2 separate regions of the Homo sapiens genome follow, and region 2 is linked to region 1. The links come from fine-mapping of genetic effects on plasma protein levels. A gene starts in region 1. The other region holds a variant in brackets. All regions are shown on one strand. Distances are between the middles of the regions. Region 1 holds the start of NPC2 (NPC intracellular cholesterol transporter 2). Region 2 overlaps SYNDIG1L (synapse differentiation inducing 1 like).

The links. PIP is the posterior inclusion probability: the model's chance that the variant is causal. The UK Biobank Pharma Proteomics Project read protein levels with antibody pairs (Olink). The fine-mapping took linkage between variants from a reference panel, not from the people measured, so its PIPs are less certain.
Region 2: its variant is fine-mapped to the plasma level of the NPC2 protein (UK Biobank, PIP above 0.99).

Annotation. Positions count from the first base shown.
Region 1 is chr14:74,486,587-74,494,825 of GRCh38, reverse strand. NPC2 (NPC intracellular cholesterol transporter 2) reads left to right here and starts at 1,521. Exons shown (of 5, transcript NM_006432.5): 1 at 1,521-1,633. The coding sequence starts at 1,552. It overlaps ISCA2 (iron-sulfur cluster assembly 2), which reads right to left and starts at 1,061. Exons shown (of 4, transcript NM_194279.4): 1 at 981-1,061; 2 at 674-776; 3 at 436-551. The coding sequence starts at 1,051. RefSeq lists enhancers at 979-1,058, 5,837-7,036 and silencers at 1,259-1,538, 1,709-1,768.
Region 2 is chr14:74,396,965-74,407,784 of GRCh38, reverse strand. SYNDIG1L (synapse differentiation inducing 1 like) reads left to right here. Exons shown (of 4, transcript NM_001105579.2): 4 at 92-1,886. The coding sequence ends at 250. Among named protein-coding and RNA genes, the nearest start is that of SYNDIG1L, 24 kb to the left of the region's middle. RefSeq lists enhancers at 146-647, 5,777-6,106, 5,324-6,233. The variant T/C (reference allele first, on the strand shown) is at 2,021.

The sequences.
Region 1 (8,239 bases):
CTGAAAAGACAGGAGGAAGGCATTAAGGAGTATCGCAAACACAAAAAAGACACCCCCTGAGCCCAGAGGTGCACATCCTCTGTTTTCTAAAGTACAGAGGGAGCTTCCCCATTACCTTTAACAGGTGCTGATTTTCTTTGAGGCAAAATGATTCAATGGAATAAATACTGGGAAACGTGTAGGGACTTAAGCCTGGAATCTAGTCCGGCCTGACTTTCTACCGACTACCCAATGGACCTGGGCAGATCAATTTTGCTCCTATAACTTAGTTACTTTGATTCAGAACAACAAACCTTTACTGCATCCTCACTGTGAGACGGGCGGTGTTAACCATCCCAGGTAAACCCTTTAAATTTGGAATAAAAGTGCACCTTAAACTGGAGACACTTTTGTCCCTCCTGTACCTCCTTTGGGGGCCCACCCCTTCCTCCTTGCCTGTCGTCGGGGTTGATAACTGTATCCAGTGAAAATTTGTATTGGAATCCGGAGCATCCACCTCCCTCCACTTGCAGCCTGAGGAATTCTGACCCTTCGGTGATTTCCAAAAGCCTCTGAAATGCAGGAAGGGGGATCAAGAATAGCGGGAAACGGGAGTTAAAGGGCTGAGTGAAGAGCAGTTCCCGCTGCTCCCGCCAATCGCCTGGGTACCGCCGCTCCGCGTCCGGCCTCCTACCTGGACGCAACTGTCTGTGAGGCGGATCTGCCCTTCGCCGGCCTCGGGGCTGGAGGACGACGCCTCCCGACGCGCCTGGGGTCCCAGGGAGGCCGTGAGGAGCCTGCGCGCAAGGGAGGAGGGTGAGCCCGGGAGCAGAAGGGGCACCTTGCAACCCTCGACCTGGAGCGCCTCACGCTAAACCTGGCGACCCCCACCTGGACGGCCTCCCACCAAACCCTCGCATCCCCCACAGGCCTTAGTTTCCCATTTGTCCTAGAGGCGCAGAACCAAACACCCTTTCCAGGTGCCTTTCTAGTCTTGGTACCTGCCCCTCGGCCAGGGAGTGACCGCTCTCTGCGTCGCGGCCGTTAGGGACGACCCCCAGGCGGCAGCCATCTTCCTCCACAAGCTCCGCCCCTCGCGTCTCCCCCGTTTCTCACCCGGGGCCTCGGGAGGCGGAGAGAACGAACAGGAGGCCGGGACTTCACGGAGGCCCCGCCCCCCCAACATGCCTATTGGGTAGTGCGGGAGGAGAAGGTGTCTGATTGGCTAGGAATGCTCCAGACGGCAGCGGCGGGGACGCACCCAGGAAGCCGGAGAGGTGCTCTAAAGGGAAGGAACGGGGCGGGGAGGAGTGAGGCGGGGCGGGGCGGAGGTGGGTCCGGGCGGGTCAGGCCTCTGAGGGGATGGCATGGGCGGAGACTGCAGGCTTCTGGGCCTGAGAGGGCTGGAGCTGGCTTTCCGGAGCCGGGGGCGGGGCGCGGGCGGGCCTCAGCTGTGGTTACTGGTGACAGGTCGCCTGACTGGGCTCCTCCCCGGGCCCGCCCCGACAGGTTTGTCTTGTGACCGCGGGCGGCCGCTGCTTCTTTCCCGAGCTTGGAACTTCGTTATCCGCGATGCGTTTCCTGGCAGCTACATTCCTGCTCCTGGCGCTCAGCACCGCTGCCCAGGCCGAACCGGTGCAGTTCAAGGACTGCGGTGAGCCCCAGGCCCGCCCAAGGTTCCCGCGCCCTCTGTGGAAGGCCCCGCCGGACCCCCGCGCTGAGACCCCTGGGGCTGGGCTGGGCGGATCCCTCGGGCGGCCAGGCTGAGCCTTGGACCCTACCTAACTGGAATGGGCTGGGTCGGGGGAGAAGGCGCCGGCCTCCATGAAACCCGACCGCGCACAACTTTGTTTCTTTCCTTAGAACGCGTGTTTTGGGGTTCCTGGGAACTCCAGGAGGTGGGCCTTTTGCTGAAGTTTCCTAAAGTTTGTAGGGCGGACAACAGAAGGGCTGTATCCAGCTCTGGTGGAGGGGTGGAGCACAGAACTTCTTTTTATTTATGCTTTGTATCTTGGAATCCCGCCTCCCCCTTCCAACTCCTTTTGCTTTTCTTTTAATTTCGTTTTTGCTGACAAGTCAAAAGTCAATTCCCCTTTTTCATCATTTATTGTTACAAATAGGACTTCCTTTGGGCTTTGGAATCTTGTGATTCTTAATCAGTTTTTCCTTGTATAAATCTCATTGTGTCTCTAATCACAGCTTGTGATACATAACTCCCTCTCGCCGCTGTGGTTGGAATCTTTGTTGGAAAATACAACAGGTGGTAGAAATTCTGAGTGCCTTCATTGAGTCGAGTCTATAGAATTGTCGGAACAGAAACTCGAGCAATGTTGTTCAGAGGTGGAGATAGAGAGATAGAACTGTCAATGAAAGAGGCATGAAACTGACTTTGTAAGATCTATGAGTGGAAAGGAAGCACGGAGATCGTATAATCAATCATTGAATTCCAGGGATGTTGGGTAGCCTACCTAAAGTCACGCAGCAGAATGGGGAGCCAGAGTAAGTGTAACCGCCCAAGGGGTTCACCTTGCGCATTGCCTAGACAGAGCGGATTTATCAAGATGGGATTTGCAGTGGCGAAAAGAGTAATTCACGCAGAGCCGGCTGTGGGGGAGGCCGGAGTTTTATTGTTACTCAGATCAGTCTCCCCGAGCATTCGGGGATCAGAGTTTTTAAGGATAATTTGGCGGGTATGGGCTTGGAAAGTGGGGAGTGCTGATTGGTCAGGTTGAAGATAAAATCATAGGAGAGTCGAAGTGAGTTCTTCTTGCTGACCTCTGGGTGGTGTCATTTGCTGCATCGGAATGCAGGATCTGCAAAATATCTCAAGCACTGACCTTAGGTTTTACAATAGTGATATCATTACCAGGAGCAATTTGGGGAGGTTCAGACTCTTACAGCCAGAGGCGGCGTGGCCCCTAAACTCGTAGCTAATTTGTTAGTCCTACAAAGGCAGACCGGTCCCCAGGCAAGAAGGGGTTTTTCAGGAAAGGGCTATTATCCATTTCGTTTCAGAGTTTAAACTATAAATTCCTCTCCAAGACTAGTTCAGCCTACACCCAGGAATGAACAAAGACAGTTTAGAGGTTAGAAGGAAGATGGGTAGGTGAGTCCTGATCTCTTTCACTGTCTTAATTTCCTCAGGATTTTTGCAAAGGCGGTTTCATAAGTTTGCTGCTTTATATCCAGTGCCCAGGTAATAGTAACTGCTCAATGAAATGTGTTGAAAACATAGATGGAAATCTTTTTCCCCTATGTCATAAAAATTCATGTTGAGACAAAAGCAAAGTTGGGGATTAGGGGACAGGATTGATTAAGGAATGGAGTGCTGGCCGATTAACACTTAAATGCTATTCCATTGATTTAGGAGACTGGCACTTGAAAGCTATTATCGCTTCAAATTACTGCCTTTCCCTCCATTAAACTTAGTAGCCAGCGTTTGGATGAAGACACTATTAATTTTAATAACTCATTCCGGCCAGGCACAGTGGCTCACACCTGTAATCCCAGCACTTTGGGAGGCCAAGACGGGCAGATCACGAGGTCAAGAGATTGAGACCATCCTGGCCAACATGGTGAAACCCCATCTCTACTAAAAATACAAAAATTAGCTGGGCATGGTAGTGTGCACCTGTAGTCCCAGCTACTCGGGAGGCTGAGGCAGGAGAATCGCTTGAACCCGGGAGGTGGAGGTTACAGTGAGCCAAGATCACGCCACTGCACTCCAGCCTGGCGACAGAGCAAGACTCCGTCTCAAAAAAATAAAATAAAATAAAATAACTCATTCCATCCTCACAAGCTGTCTTACAGATGAGGAAAGCGAAGCACATAGAGTAACTTGCCCAAGATCTCACACCCAGTAAGTGGTAGGAAACCGTGGGTCTTTGTGAGCCACTTTGGGTTTCCAAAAAAAGAAGGGAAATAAATCCAGAAATTATTCTACTTATTTGAAAAAGCAGGAGTACACCTATGGGAAGAAGCTTTTAAAGGGAAGAAGGGTTTCAGTTACAGATTTATAATTTACTTTTGAATTGGGAAATATGATATAAAGACTTCAGTGCCCACATCAAAGATTTTTGTGTTCCACTCTACACCCACCTTCCCTGGCGTGGGATTTCCTCAAGTGAGAAAGTGGACCAAGCAAACTAATTTTGTAATGTTTGCTGGTTAGAACAGAGGAGTTTGTTCTATTGACACTGGAAGTCTAAGAACCTCTTGTCATCAGAAAACTGGATGAAAGAGCTATAAGTACTACCCTTTACTTACTTCCTACTAGATTATGTGACTCAGCCTTGAAAGAAGCAGGTGGAAGCTGGACATTGAAAGCCTTAACATTAGCACTGATTTTCAATAGATTGTTGATTGAAGTTCGGGATTTCTTTTTTCCCTATTCACCAAAAATGGGTTGGAGTGGAAGAGAGTGTTTCTCAAACTGTTTTGGATGCTTAAGAGTGTGTGCAGTTTAAGAACTTTGCAATGATGGAGAAGCAAGCTGAGGGATAAAGGACTGCAAGGTACTATTTACTGACCTAGCTGGAGCAGTGTTGGTCAGTGTGATGATAGTTAAAGAGACTGTTCCACCCAAGGGTAGGTACAGGCAGCAAAGAACATCTACTTAGATTTCTGAGTTCATATCATACTTTTATAGTACTGAGCTAATCTGGTGACTGACTGCATAGCAGATAATGTACTCTCAACCTGCAGTTTGCCTCTGTCTTCATGCATTCCACTTTTGAGACAGAAAGAGTCCATCCTATTGGCTAGAAACATAATTTCTATCCACAAAGTATATTTGAGGTGAGAGGTCCAGTTTTTGTGTCAGAAGGGAACTTGCTAACCTACCCAGGAGCAGCTATTCTAGATTAAACTCATGGACTAAATCCAGATATGATAATAATAGTAAATATATGTATCACTATGTTCCAAACACTTACCTAAGATCTGTATTTGTGTTAGCTCAGCTACACCATTATCTCCAGAGAGGTAAAGTATCTTGCCTTGAGGCTATACAGTAAGTAGCAGAGATAGTGAGATTTCAAACCCAGGCATCCGGCACCAGAGTCTGCCTCTCAGCAATGATGGCTGAATGGCAGAACTTAACTTACCCTGTTACAGGCACTGTTATCAGGCAGTTCACCTGCATTCTCTCCCATTCAACTGCCCAGTCTCTGGGGCAGGAGGAAATGGGATTTTTAAAGGCTTTATTTAAACCTTTTTTGGTCAAGCATTTATTGTATACAAGTACTTTTGTCCTTGGTTAGACTGAGATTAAAATACATACATACACACACAGACACACACACACACACTTATTTTAAGAACGCAGGTTCCCAAAATCGAGTATACATCTGTAGATTGCAGATGTGTGCTTAAAATCAGTTTTTGAAACTACTTAGAAACAACCTGGACAAGTCAGATGAATCCAATTTCTTTTCTTAAATTTTTTAATTTTGAAAAATATGTATTTGTTTTGAGGATTCCCAGGGATAAATCCTATTTCTGACTCTTTCTAGTACCTTCTTAGGTCTCATCCTTATGTTTTTAACATATGCAGTATTTGCAAGTGTATCATTCCCAGCAGCTATATAGACCTAGGCCAAGTTAATATTTCAGAGGAAATGAAACCCAGACTCAGGTAGCAGTATTCTTCTTTAATGCAGCTGGCACTTCTGCCATCTTGGCTGTGTGAGTCAGTGCTATTTGGAGTTAAGCTTAACTTGTGCCCTAAGCTTGTACTGAAACTATAAAGACCTTAACCTCTGTACTCCTCTTCATCCCCTTGATTCTTGGAAAAAATCCAGATCTTAACAACCTTAGTCAAGATTTAAGGTACTTCCTGTTGTTTTTGGAGCCAAAATATTTCATGACTCATAAGTGGGCCTTAAAGAACAGGACTAAATCATTGAAGAAACTGCAGAAGTGCAGTGAAAATGGTGCAGTTCCCAATTCAGAAGTGGGAGGTAGTTCCTCTCTTAAGGGTCATTCCTAGTTCAGAGATGGTAGGTGGTTTTTCTGTTTAGGGTCACTCCTCTGTTCAGTGTTAAGTGGTAGTTCCTCTTAAATTCCATAGTCTGCTTACTCGGAAGTGAGTAGGCTTCTGGAATCAGTCTTATTTTATTTTATTTTATTTTTTGAGACAGAGTCTTGCTCTGTCACCCAGGCTGGAGTGCAGTGGCGCAATCTCGGCTCACTGCAACCTCTGCCTCCCCAGTTCAAGCGATTCTCCTGCCTCAGCCTCCTGAGTAGCTGGGATTACAGGTGAGCACCACCATACCTGGCTAATTTTTGTATTTTTATTAGAGACGAGGTTTCACCATGTTGGTCAGGCTGGTCTCGAACTCTTAACCTCTTGATCCACCTGCCTTGGCCTCCCAAAGTGCTGGGATTATAGGCATGAGCCACCATGCCCACCCTTGAATCAGCCTAATTTTAAAAGCCAAGACTGATATTCTGACACTTTTCATCGTTTTACCTATACCTTTAATAGTGCTGCTTATTTCTCTAGGAAGTCAAGTTGGGGTGAAAGAAAGAAGGGATTCCAGGAAGACAAAATACTGGGCAAAGGATTTACCAGCAGTTTGGGAGAAAGGGTACAAAATCTGGATAGAAGATACTTCATCACTGAAAATCACAGAGGATATAGGGGTTGAACCTCTACGATAGAAAGAGAATCATGGTGAGGGGCAAAGAGGCGATGCTGAATTAAGAAACCTGAAAAGTTGAGTTTGAGACAGACCTTCATCCAGAGTCCTCAAGTAGTTCTCAGATGCAAATTTCCTTGGGGTGTCCTTCCATTCATCAACATGGCTGCGTATTTAAAGCTTCTTTCAGGTTCCGGTAACAAGGGCTTCCAAGTCAGGCCCACCCATTGAGTCTTCGATCTGCCCCTTCCAGGCAATGTGACCTTGGACAAATCTCAGTAATCTTTGCTCTTCTGGTTTCTAACCCCTAAAACAAGGATGATAAATACCATTGTTGTGAGATGTTTTCTTCAGATGCCTCTGCTTTCCTTCATTCTTGCTAGTCAAGGTACAATTTCCATAGAGTCTAAAAATGAATGATTCAGGAACTAAAAACTCTTGAAGCCAGATTCAAGAAAGGTTCAGTCTGTTTTGGGATCTGGCAGACTTTCCAAGCAATAATAGCAGACTCCCTCAATCAGTGTTTGCTCATGTAGAACTTGAGGTAGAAAGATGTTGTAATTCATTTCTGATCTTCCTCCGCGGAGTTTCAGGCTCTACATTTGCTTTCTAGCTGTTTCCGCATAAAGTGCGGTTTTTGGCCAGGTGCGGTGGCTCATGCCTGTAATCCCAGGACTTTGGGAGGCCAAGGTGGGCAAATTGCTTGAGCCTAGGAGTTTGAGACCAGCCTGGGCAACATGGTGAAACCCTGTCTCTACAAAACACAAAAATTAGCCGGGTGTGGTGGTGCATGCCTATTGTTCTAGCTACTCAGGAGGATGGAGTAGGAGGATCACTTGAGCCTGGGACGGTTGAGGCTGCAGTGAGCTGAGATTGTGCCATTGCATCTAGCCTGGGTGACAGAGTGAGACCCTGTCTCAAAAAAAAAAAACAAAAAAAAACCACAAAAACAAAACAGGGAGGGTGCAATGACTCACGCCTGTAATCCTAGCACTTTGGGAGGCCTAGGCAGGCAGACCACGAGGTCAGGAGATCAAGACCATCCTGGCCAACATAGTGAAACCCTGTCTCTACTAAAATACAAAAACTTAGCCGGGCATGATGGCACTCGCCTGTAGTCCCAGCTACTCAGGAGGCTGAGGCAGGGAATGGTTTGAACCCGGGGGGTGGAGGTTGCAGTGAGCTGAGACTGTGCCACTGCACTCCAACCTGGTGACAGAGCAAGACTCCATCTCAAAAAAAAAAAAAATGTAGTTGTTCCTGTAGTGAACAACTTTCATCAGATTTACATGCTAATCTATATGCTAGAAAAAGAAAGGGAAAATAGGAATATTTTCATCCAAAGGAAGGTTGAAGCAAACGTCTTCAAGGTTTAAGTTTAAACTGTGACCCTTACCATTAAGAATGCGAGATAAGACTCTAGGAATGTTTGGAATTTCTCTGATTGAAGTTTAATTCCTTTAATATGATCATTTATGGATATGGTCTTGATATTATTTAGTTTGACAAATATTAACTTTCTCTTGATCAAAAAACCAACTAGCTTCTTTATCATCTGAATTAAAGGCTATGATTTTAGCAGCAAGATGAATCAAGATTCTGACTTCTAATTGGGCATT
Region 2 (10,820 bases), 88 kb after region 1:
CGTCTGCAGGATGGGGTCAGGGGCCTGGCAGGCTGGGCTGTTTGGCTGGGTGTGGGGACACTCCTGTTCATCAGCATGTCTCTCTCCCTAGACCAGCAAGGCCATCTCCAAAGGGGACTTCCGCCTGGCCAGCACCACCTCCCGCCGGGCCCTCTTCCTAGCCACACTCGCCATCGCCGTGGGGGCCGGTCTCTACGTGGCTGTGGTGGTGGCTCTGGCAGCTTACATGTCCCAGAACGGTCATGGCTAGTAGCCAGTAGGGCCTGCATCCTGACTCCCCTGCCCACCTGAGGAAGCAGTGGGGCTTGGAGTTGCAGACCCTATGGAAAGGCCCGGCCCCTGAAGATGATCCCGTGAGAGTGGCTTGCTGAGGGGGAGACCCCCATTCCACAGCCTGCAGAGCTCAGCCTTCACTTCTGCTTGCCCGCTGCTCCCAGCCCCAGAGCAGGGCCCGGGGCGCCACTCTCTAACCCAGGCTACAGACGGGAAACAGAAGGCAGGGCTGCCCACCAGGCCATCCCAGCAGGGCCTAGCTCCATCCATTCTGCCCATTCCCTAGAGGATCTCCTGCCCTACAGCCAGCCCACCACCTACCCTGCCAACCTCCCCACAGAGAAAGAGCAGGAGGTTACAGGGAGAAAAGGGGGTGCCCAGAGCACAAGGGGACCCGTCCCAATCCTTTCAGCCCACAGGGATCTTCACCTGGGGACAGCCTGAGCTTCCCCCAACTCCACTGTCTGGCCCCATCATGCCCAGACCTCAGCAGGCCAAGAAGGAAATACGTGGAGGCAAGGGGGCCTCTTGCTGTCTCTGATTCTAGAGGGTGCTTATCTCTGCATGGGCTTGTGAGGCACTGTAGATTCTAGATAGGGAAGAGGAGCCTCGGTATGTAAACTCTGAACCAAGGGCAGGTTCTTGGAGCTTCTTCATGCGGGTGCAAAAGGCAGTTGCAATGACAGAGAATAGAGGGTCCTGAAATATTGCTGTACTACATGACTCTTCCTACTCTCCCCCCACTCCCCGCCCCTATCATCCTTTTCTGGGCTTTGCCTGGGGGTCCGTGAGCTGGTGCCATCACAAGTAGACTAGACCCAGAGAGTGCCCTCAGCTCACCAGCCACTGAGCGCACGGCCCTAGGTCCAGCCCTACAGAAAACGCAGCAAGGAGAGACCCTAGGGAGTAGTGAGTATAGATGAGGGAAGGGACTCAGGGAAGGAATGGCCTGCTGAGTAGTCAGCGGTGCTTAGGAAGGCTTCCTGGAGGAGGTATCCCTTGAGCAAGTCCTAGGATGAATAGAATTCATCTAAGGGATTTGGTCACATAACTCTTTGTATTTGTAGGCAGGGATGTGGCAGGAACCTTCCATGGGAAGCTTCCAGGCTGTTTGGATTCTGCCTGGAACATCTGGGCTGGAGCCAAACTACAGCCATTCCTAAGGGTTCTGCCAACTCAAGGAGGAACGTCACACCTGTCTCTCAAAGACCAATGATGTTTTCCCATCTCTGAATGCTAGGGGGTCAGTGGTGGGTACCTGGTTACCCCTGGGGCATCTTCACTGATATCTCTGCTCAGTGCCAGTCTCAACACCCTCAGCCACTAGGGCACATCCAGAATTTTAGAGACATCTCCAGGTAGGCGGGGGGCAGCACCAATGTGGGCAGGCCTGTCTGGACTCAAGCTACAGGCCCCTGCTGTGCATGATGTGGGAACCTGGTCATTCCCATGCCCCATCCAGAGCCCAGGGCTGTGGCTCCACCACTGAGCATCCCTTGTCCCACTGTCCTCCCCTGCCTCGGGCACTGCCCAGCCCTCCACTCCTGCATCACAGCAGTTTTAAGGTCCCATTATTGTACTGATTTATCCTTGTAATAAATGTTTCTGTAACACCTGGTGCCCTCTAGGTATCTTGCTGTGCTACCTGCCCCGCCTTTGCCTGAATCCCATTCTTCTCCAAGACTGACCTGTTGCTATGTCTGCTGCTCTGACCCCTGGCAGCCTGCGGAGAGGACAAGCCCACGTA[T/C]GGGCCTTAGGAGGAGTGGTGGCCAGAGTGTCTGCACCATCCCAGGATTCCTCTGCTTGGAGTAGTCTGGCTGTAGAGTGATGGCCTGCATTTGGCTTGCTCTAGGCAAGCCAAAGCAAGATCCGTGCCTGGAAAAAAAGCCCTTCTAGGCTCAAGAGCCTTGGAGGACAGGGAGGAAGGGATGTGAGCCAAGGTGACTGAGGCTCCATGGAGCTGCCTGGAGCTACCAAGGGTGGATACAGGGTGTGAGGGGGCCAAGGAGTCCACGCCCCTGCTGCCTGCTCCTTCACCATCTCTTCCATCCCAGGAGCCGCTCCTGGACCATGTGGAGAGGAAGGCATCTCTGCCTGCCTCAGGCCCCAGCTCAGCACCAAATCTCCAATATCCTCTCAGACCTGAGCCCCCAGGAGCCTGCCTGGGCCAGCACAGGGACTGGCCTGGCCTCTAGGTCACTTGGATGGAGGGCCCTGGGGAGGCAGGTTATGCACATCCCATATCCACGTGTGCACCTACTTGTAAGACACAGCTGTGCACGTATGCACACACACATGCTGCATGGGTTGCGAACCCCAGAAACAGAGATTAGCCTGTGAGATGGATATGAGGGGCTGCTGTTGGGATAACGTTTGTAAAAGCATGGAGAGGGAGGCAGATCTGGGCAGAGGGAGAGGTCAGGCTGCAATGCAGTCCTGAATGACAGGCTGGGCCAACCCACAGGGGAGCCAGAGTTGACCCAAATTGGGGTGAAGAGCCAGGTCTTTCCACTCCCTCATTGACCAGTCATTAGATGTGGGCCACCCAGAAAGAGGGTGTGACCTCAGGCAAGGCAGTGGTCTTCAGCTGAGACAACACAAAAACATTTGCCCTGAAGACTGTTTGCTGCCAGGACCTGCAGCAGCTGGAAAGCTGTCCATCCTTCCTGAAGGGATCCTGAGTGGCATATCACCACGTCCACCACACCCACCCACCCAGCAGCAGACGCCCTGGTGCCCACCTAGATCCCCTCTGCATTCACCTCTTCACACTGAAGGCTGCTTCAGTCGTGTTCTACACAGGTTCCCTGGGCTCCCCAGTGGGCCTGAGCTCAGTTGCCTGCAGCAGCACTCTGCTTGATACATGCCCTTCATTGGCTGATTTCCTCACCCTGCCTCCTTCCCTACTCCCCAACTGTGCTTCCTGGGATCATCCCCCAATAAACCGCCTACAATTGAACCCTTGTCTCAGGGTTGGCTTCTGGGAGAAGCCAAACCCCGGCACACAGCATGCACGTTCACACGCACATGTACATCTTCCATATATATGCACACACTTGCACATACATGTACCCACACACAGGCATACACATACACATAGGCACAGCCACACACCACGCAAACCTTTGTGCACACACACGCACATGTACACAGGCACAGCCCACACATGCACAAAAGCTGTATGCACATACACACACACACACATGCACCATGTGCACATACAAGAGGTGAAGAAGGAGGCTCACACCTGTAATCCCAGCACTTTGGGAGGCTGAGACAGGAGGATTGCTTGAGCCCAGGAGTTCAAGACCAGCCTGGGCAACATAGTGAGACCCCATTTCCACAAAAAAAATTTAAAAACTAGCTGGTCGTGATGGATGATGGTGCATGCCTGTGGTCCCACTACTACATAGGAGGCTGAGGCAGGAGGATCGTTTGAGCCTGGGAGATTGAGGCTGCAGTGAGCCATGACCACACTACTGTACTCCTGCCTAGGTGACAGTGAGACCCTGTCAAAAAAAAAAAAAAGAGAGAGAGAGAGAGATTATTTTTAAAAAAGGAGGAAGAGAAGGAGGCATGGTGGCTGAGGAGTCTCACCTGGCCCTGCCTGCGCTGTGGTCCCACCCATCACCAGCCTGGCTGGGGCCCCGGAAAGGGCACTGGGCAGCATGCACCCTGGTCCATGCCCTGCTTGGGCTGGGCGGGCAGCCTCATGGTCCACAATTCTCACCTCCTTGCCAGCCCTCTGAAATGCTGTTCCAGGCTTTGAGAAGGGGAAAGAGAAGCCAAACAATTTTCTATCTTTTTTTTGCGGGTGGGGGGATGGAGTTTCACTCTTGTCGCCGAGGCTGGAGTGCAATGGTGCGATCTCGGCTCACTACAACCTCTGGATCCCAGGTTCACGTGATTCTCCTGCCTCAGCCTCCCGAGTATCTGGGATTACAGGCACATGCCACCACACCCAGCTAATTTTGTATTTTTAGTAGAGATGGGATTTCACCATGTTGGTCAGGCTGGTCTGGAACTCCTGACCTCAGGTGATCTGTCTGCCTCGGACTCCCAAAGTGCTGGGATTACAGGTGTGAGCCACAGCGCCTGGCCACAATTTTCTATTTTCAACCCTGGACCTGCCCCTCTCCTTTTCACCCCATCCCTACCCTCAGCTGCAAATTCAGGCTCTGTAGGAGAAAATGGAATAAGAAACGAAGCCCTTGGGGCCTCCCTCATGCAGCCCCTAGAAAGGATCCATCCTTTGGAGCCCAGGCTTGTCCTGATCAGTCCCTGGAGCACAGACACCCACCCACCCCCTTCCAGCTTAGGGCCGCCTCTGGCATGCCTGGGGCACTTGAGGCCTCCTGCTTCCCAGCTCTGCCTGCGTCTGGCTGCCTGAGGCCCCTGGGAGGCATAGGGGCTTCAGCTACTCCCCTTCAGGCTGGTTCCTCAGGCTGGCAGAGACAGGCTGGGGGCAGGGAGGGTCCCCTGGGTAAAGGTGCCCGTGACGAGCTGCAATGCCAGCACATCTGTGCAAATATTACCAATTATTTTCCTCACTATAAACACCCAGCAGGAAGACAGAGAAGCAACCAACCCAAACTGTTCAAAATAGAAACTGAAATTGCTGCACAGGGAAGTCGGGGCAGCCAGCAGAGTGGGGGCCCTGCACCAAGAACCCAGCCCCGGTCCCCGCAGCTGCCCTGATGCTGGACCTGCTCTGGCTGACCCCACCCTCCAACCCCATCTCAACTTTCTCCCCTACAGGCCAGGCTGGAATGGGATGGAAAAGGGCCTCACCTAGGGGATGTGGGATATAAGGGAGGGTAGCCAAATGGGCCCTGTGTGGGGGTGGGCAGATGGCAGAGGGGGCAGCCACAGAGGAGCCAGGAACTGAGGCCACCTGGCCTGTGGTCCAGGACAGCTGCTGGGCAAGTGGAGCCACGGGGGCTGTGGGCAAAGGAGTGGGAGGAGAGCCTCCCTTCACTGTTCCCCAGCCCCAGGGAAGAAGGGGTGTCCTAAGGGTGGCAGGCCAGGGGTCCTGGGGGCTGGACCCAGGGGAAACAGTGACCTGGCCCCACTCCGAGTGACAAGAATTTTTCCGATGGTGGGAAGGACTAGAAACCCACTCCCAGAACCCCGGCAGCCTTCTCCATCTCTTCCTCCCGATGAACAGGGCGGATAGACAGCAGGTCCATGGACATAGTTGCAGGGATTGTCAGAACAGTGAAAATACTTCCACAGTAGTTGATAAACAGGCCAAGCCCTAAACCCTCCCAGTGTTTCCCTCTCCTGCCTCCCTGGCCCCTCCCCAGAACTCCAGACTTCTCTGCTTCAGGAACTGAAGTGTTAACAGCTGACACAGGGCCCCGCCCCCTCCCAAATGCGTCTGTCCATGCCTGACTGCCCTGGTGGCTAAACGGCTCTGATGTTGCCCCTGGGCACATGCACCACTCATCAGTGTGCCCCTGCACCCTGCTGCTTCCCAGAGACAGACTCAGCACAGTCCCTGAACCCCACTCAGAAGGTGGGGCAGGGGTCAGTGGCCAAAGGTGTGAGTCCTGGAACGCTGCAGCAGGAAGGAACCCGGGAGGTGATCTAGTCACAATCCCTCATGCTACAGATGAGACAACAGAGACCCAGAAAGGGTTGCCAGTTGCCCAGTGTCACACAGCAAGTCACGAGCCAAGCCCAGGCCTTGCCTCACAGGCCCTGGAGTTGCTGAGCTAGGCTGGTGATGTCTGCTTGCCTTGGAAACAGAAAACCCAGGGACAACTGCCGCTGCTGCCCAGTGAATATTAACAAACTTGCTTCTCTCAGCCTTCCTTCCCCGGCTGTTTCCGGCTTCAAAGGCTTCCCCGGCTGGCCCCTCCCTGGGGCTGACACCTTGGCCCTTCTATTTTTGGTGGCTTGGTAGGGGTGGGGCAGGAGAGCGACAGCCTTGCTTTTGCCTGCCCTGAGCTCATGGCAGCCCCCGGGTGCTCTCTCATCCTCTCTGCCATGGGGGGAGGAGCTACTCTGGGCGGGGGAGTCCCCACGGGGAGACTCAGATGTTCTGAACAAAAATAAAAGGTGCTCGTGTGGCCCATCTGCATTTCCAAATACTTCCAGCCCACATCCCTTGAACTGCTTTTACCTCTCTCCCACTAAAGAGCCAGGCAGGTTTCAAAGCCAGTTCTAGCTCCTCCAGGAAATGACAGAGAAAGAAACTCCCAGGGGGCAGGATCCCTCAGAGGCAGCCAGAAGGGGACAAAGGGGACAGTGAGTGTGCTTGCACCAGTGGGCAGGGCTGGGGTGAGGCAGCAGGGCCAGGCTACGTTGACAGAGCACCCTGGGTGCACAAAGGACCTTCACACCACTCTTTCTACCACTGAGGCTGGTGTTCTTGTCCCCATTTCACAGACAGGAAGACTGAGGACCTCGAGGCCTTTCCCAGTTCCACAGATCAGTGAATGGTGCCTCGTCCTCTGGGAGCCTGCTGTGGCTCCACCCTCACCCACTGCCTCCCTTCCTGAAGCCAACTCCTGGCCATTTTCCCTCATTAACCTCCGCCAGCCCTGTCCCTAACACTTGCGCTCAGAGCTGGCTGGCCCAGAGCACAGCCCAGTGGTTAACAGCAGAGAAGAGGGGAGCCCACCACCCAGTTCAAATCCCATCCCCAGCCTCTGTGCAACTTCGGGTAAGATGTTGCTTGGTGTTTTCTCATCTGGAAAACGGGGATCGTGATGGTGACTGACCCCGTTAAGATGACTGTGAATATTACATGAATTAACACTTGTATGGCTCCCGCAAAATTGAGTGTCTCGTAAGTGCTATATGGAATTTCTTTAAAATTATCTCCAGCTGACCACCATTTAAATGGCTTCCCTGCCAGAAGTGTGTCACCTCCCTCAGCCCCATCCCTTCCATAGCCAGAGATAATAGCCAAAGTCCTGATAGCTCTGGTCCCTGCTGGTCTCTGGGCAGATCTCGGCTGGCAGCAAGCTGAAGGCAGGGCCTGTTTCCCGTCTCGCTGCCTTTGTTTAGGCTGCTCCCCCTGCCTGTAATTCTGGTATCTGCCTCCACACCCTGAGATTCTTTTCCTCCAAACTGATAAAAATAATTTTCCAAGACACGTCTCAAGAAAACCTCATTTTCTCGGCAGCTGTTTCTGTCAACTCACCCCAGCCCCAACACCAGGTAGAACTAGCCACCCTCTTTCGTGAACCACCGCTACACCTGTTCATATCGACATGACGGCCACATCTAGACATCTGCTTTTCTGAGGGTGGAGCTCGTGTTTGCTCAGGGCATCCCAGGTCTGACGTGGGGACTGCCTTCCACAGACACTCGACCCTTGTTCACTGTTGACATCACTGGGAAAGAAGTGACTTGCCTCCAGGCTGGAGGGAGTCGGGGCAAGGTTCTTTCCACTTTAATTTCCTCTTCAATGGGAAAATCATCCACATCTTGGGGTAGATGGGAGCAGGGAGGAAGTCTCTAGGTGGCAAGGACTTTACAATTCCGAGGACGATCAAAGAGACCAGAAAGAGCAGTATGAGCCCGTGGGGTGCCCAGCCTGGTGGTATCTGCAAAGGGACACAGCACAGAACTTTACCCACCTCCTCCCCTCTTTCATCAGGGATGCCATAAAGACCACCCTTCTGGTGCTGCAAGGTCTGTGCTCTGTAGGAAGAATAAACAAGGGGAACAAAGAAGCCAGAGCAGCTGCTCACTGCTCTCCTCCTCTGGTCTCCCCCAGGCTGTGGGCTGAGGATAGAGAAGAGGTTCTTCCTTGGTTTCCTCTGCACCCAACTTAGCCCCTGGGTCACCCCCAACCCCCATTGTCCAAAGGAGCCTACAAGTCTGGGTACCACTGGCCTGTCCACAGTCACCTCTGAAGACCAAGGCCAGAAACAGGAGCACTTTCCCATCCTTCACCAAGTCCTGTGACTCTACCACTCCCCAATCTCCCCGACTCTATTTCCTGCTATCTCTATCTCCAAGCCCTAGTCCAAGCCCCCATCAGCTCTTACTCAGACTCCTGCAAAACCTCCTAAATGACCTATCACATGATGCAACATGGATGAACTTTAAGGAGATCAGGCTAAGTGAAATAAGCCAGTCTCCAAAGAACAAATACTGGATGATTCCATTTATGTGAGGTACCTCGGGTAGTCACATTCCTAGAAAGAGAAAGAAGAATGGTGATTGCCAGGAGCTGGGGGAGGGAAAAACTGGGATTTGTTTAATGGGCATAGAGTGTCAGCTTTGCAAATTGAGAAAGTTCTAGAGATCTGTTGCAAAACAACATGCATGTACTTAATTGTACTGAACCGTACACTTAAAATGGGTAAGATGGTAAATTTTATGCTATGTGTTTGTTTTGTTTTGTTTTGAGACAGAATCTTGCTCTGTCTCCCAGGCTGGAGTACAGTGGCACAATCTCTGCTCACTGCAACCTCTGCCTCCCAGATTCAAGTGATTCTCATGCATCAGCCTCCCAAGTAGCTAGGACTAAAGGCGCATGCCACCACACTCAGCTAATTTTTGTATTTTCAGTAGAGACGGGGTTTCGCCATGTTGGCCAGGCTGGTCTCGAATTCCCAACCTCAAGTGATCCCCCCACCTCGGCCTCCCAAAGTCCTGAAGTGCTGGAATTACAGGCGTGAGCCACCACACCTGGCAAGAAATTTTAAACATAGTTTATCTGTTTCCTTGTAAGTACCTTAGAGCAAGCTTGTCCAACCTGTAGCCTACACAGCCCAGGACAGCTTTGAATGCTGCCCAACACAAATTCGTAAACTTTCTTGAAACATTATGAAGTGTGTGTCAGTGTGTGTGTGTGTGCACGCACGTGTGTTTAGCTCATCAGCTATCGTTATTATTAGTGTATTTCATGTGTGGCCTAAGGCAATTCTTCTTCTAGTGTGGCCCGGGGAAGCCAAAAGATCGGACACCCCTGCCTTAGAGTAGGGGAGCGCTGTAATTGACACATCTCTTATTTGAGAAGTAGTGTCTGTTGCCCTTATCAGGTTTAATTACAAAATTTGATCATGATCATATTGTAGCCTCTCAAAGTGCTCTAGAAATTGTCAGTGGTATACATGAAGCGGCAGTGGTGTCTGGTGCACTCTGAAATGCTATCAAAGTTGTACATATTTCCAAACATTTTTAAAATGAAAAGGCACTCTTGTGTTCTCATTCTGTGCGCTTTGCTATTGGAGTGACAAGGCATTTAAAGATGTTTCTGGCTTTTTTTTTTTTAATAAGGTGGTGTTAACTATCTGGTTATTGACTAGAAATCCTGAGTTATCAATTGTATATCTGTACGGTTTGTAAAAAGAACAAAACAACCAAGGCAGACTCTTGACGGCTCCTTGCTTGGCATTGAGGCTCTGGGGGAAGATGCCTTTTGGAGGGGCTGTAGCTCAGGGCGTGCACTGTGAATCTGGACCTGTTGACTCTGCAGGGCTTCCATTTAGCTTCAAGTTGTCTTGTTTCTGCATATAGTGACGGAGCATTCTGCTGCCATTCTTAGCTGTGGACAAAGAGGGTCAGCCGGCATGAGAAGTGTTTGGGGGGTTTAGTTTGTTTGTTTTAGTTAAGTGTGGTAATTTTTAAACTTTTTTTTTTTTTTTTGAAACAGGGTCTCACTCTGTTACCCAGGCTGGAGTGCAGTGGCGTGACCTCGACTCACTGCAGCTTTAACCCCCTGGACTCAGGTGATCCTCCCACCTCAGCCTCCTGAGTAGCTGGGACTACAGGCACCTGCCACCATGCCAGGCTAATTTTTGTATTTTTTTGTAGAGACAGGGTTTTGTCATGTTGCCCAGGCTGGTCTCGAACACCTGGGCTCAAGTGATCCACCCACTTTGCCCACCTCGGCCTCTCAAAGTGCTAGGATTATAGGCATGAGCCACCACGCCCAGCAGAAAACTGTTTTTAAACAAACTGTAGAACTCCTCATTATCAGCAAAGCAAGAGACATCACGTCAATGAAAGTTCAAGAACCGTCTGTATTTAAACACGATTTGTAATGTTCTGTTATTTTTTGTATGTTGAGAATGCTGAAATGTGTTTGAAGTTAAACAAATGTATTACATGTTTTAAATATTCTAATGCTATTATAAATCTGCCCAGTCTCTTTTCGAGGATGATTTTAATGCGGGGAGGAAAAAAAAGCAACCCTCTGAAATGTTCTCCCTGCCTCCTCCCTGGCCTCTTTTTAGCTACATTGAATTTTCCTGAAGGCAAATTTGGTCGAGTCATCCTCCCTTGATTAAAGCTTTCAAAGGACATCTATTTCTCTTAGATAAAAAACCAAACTAACCTGCTTATGAGCCCCTGCCACTTCACACCACAACCCAAGCTCCCTGCACCTCACCATGTCTGCCTTCCTTCAGCCCTTCACACTTGCAGGGCCTTTGCATATGCAACTTCTTCTGCCTGAAATACTTTTCCTTTCCTTCTTGGACTAATTAGCTCCTATTCATCCTTCCTGCCTTGGTTCTAAAGGCACTTCCTCTGGGAAGCCCTCTTCTCCCCAGCCTGGCCAGGTCTATCCCCATGATTGA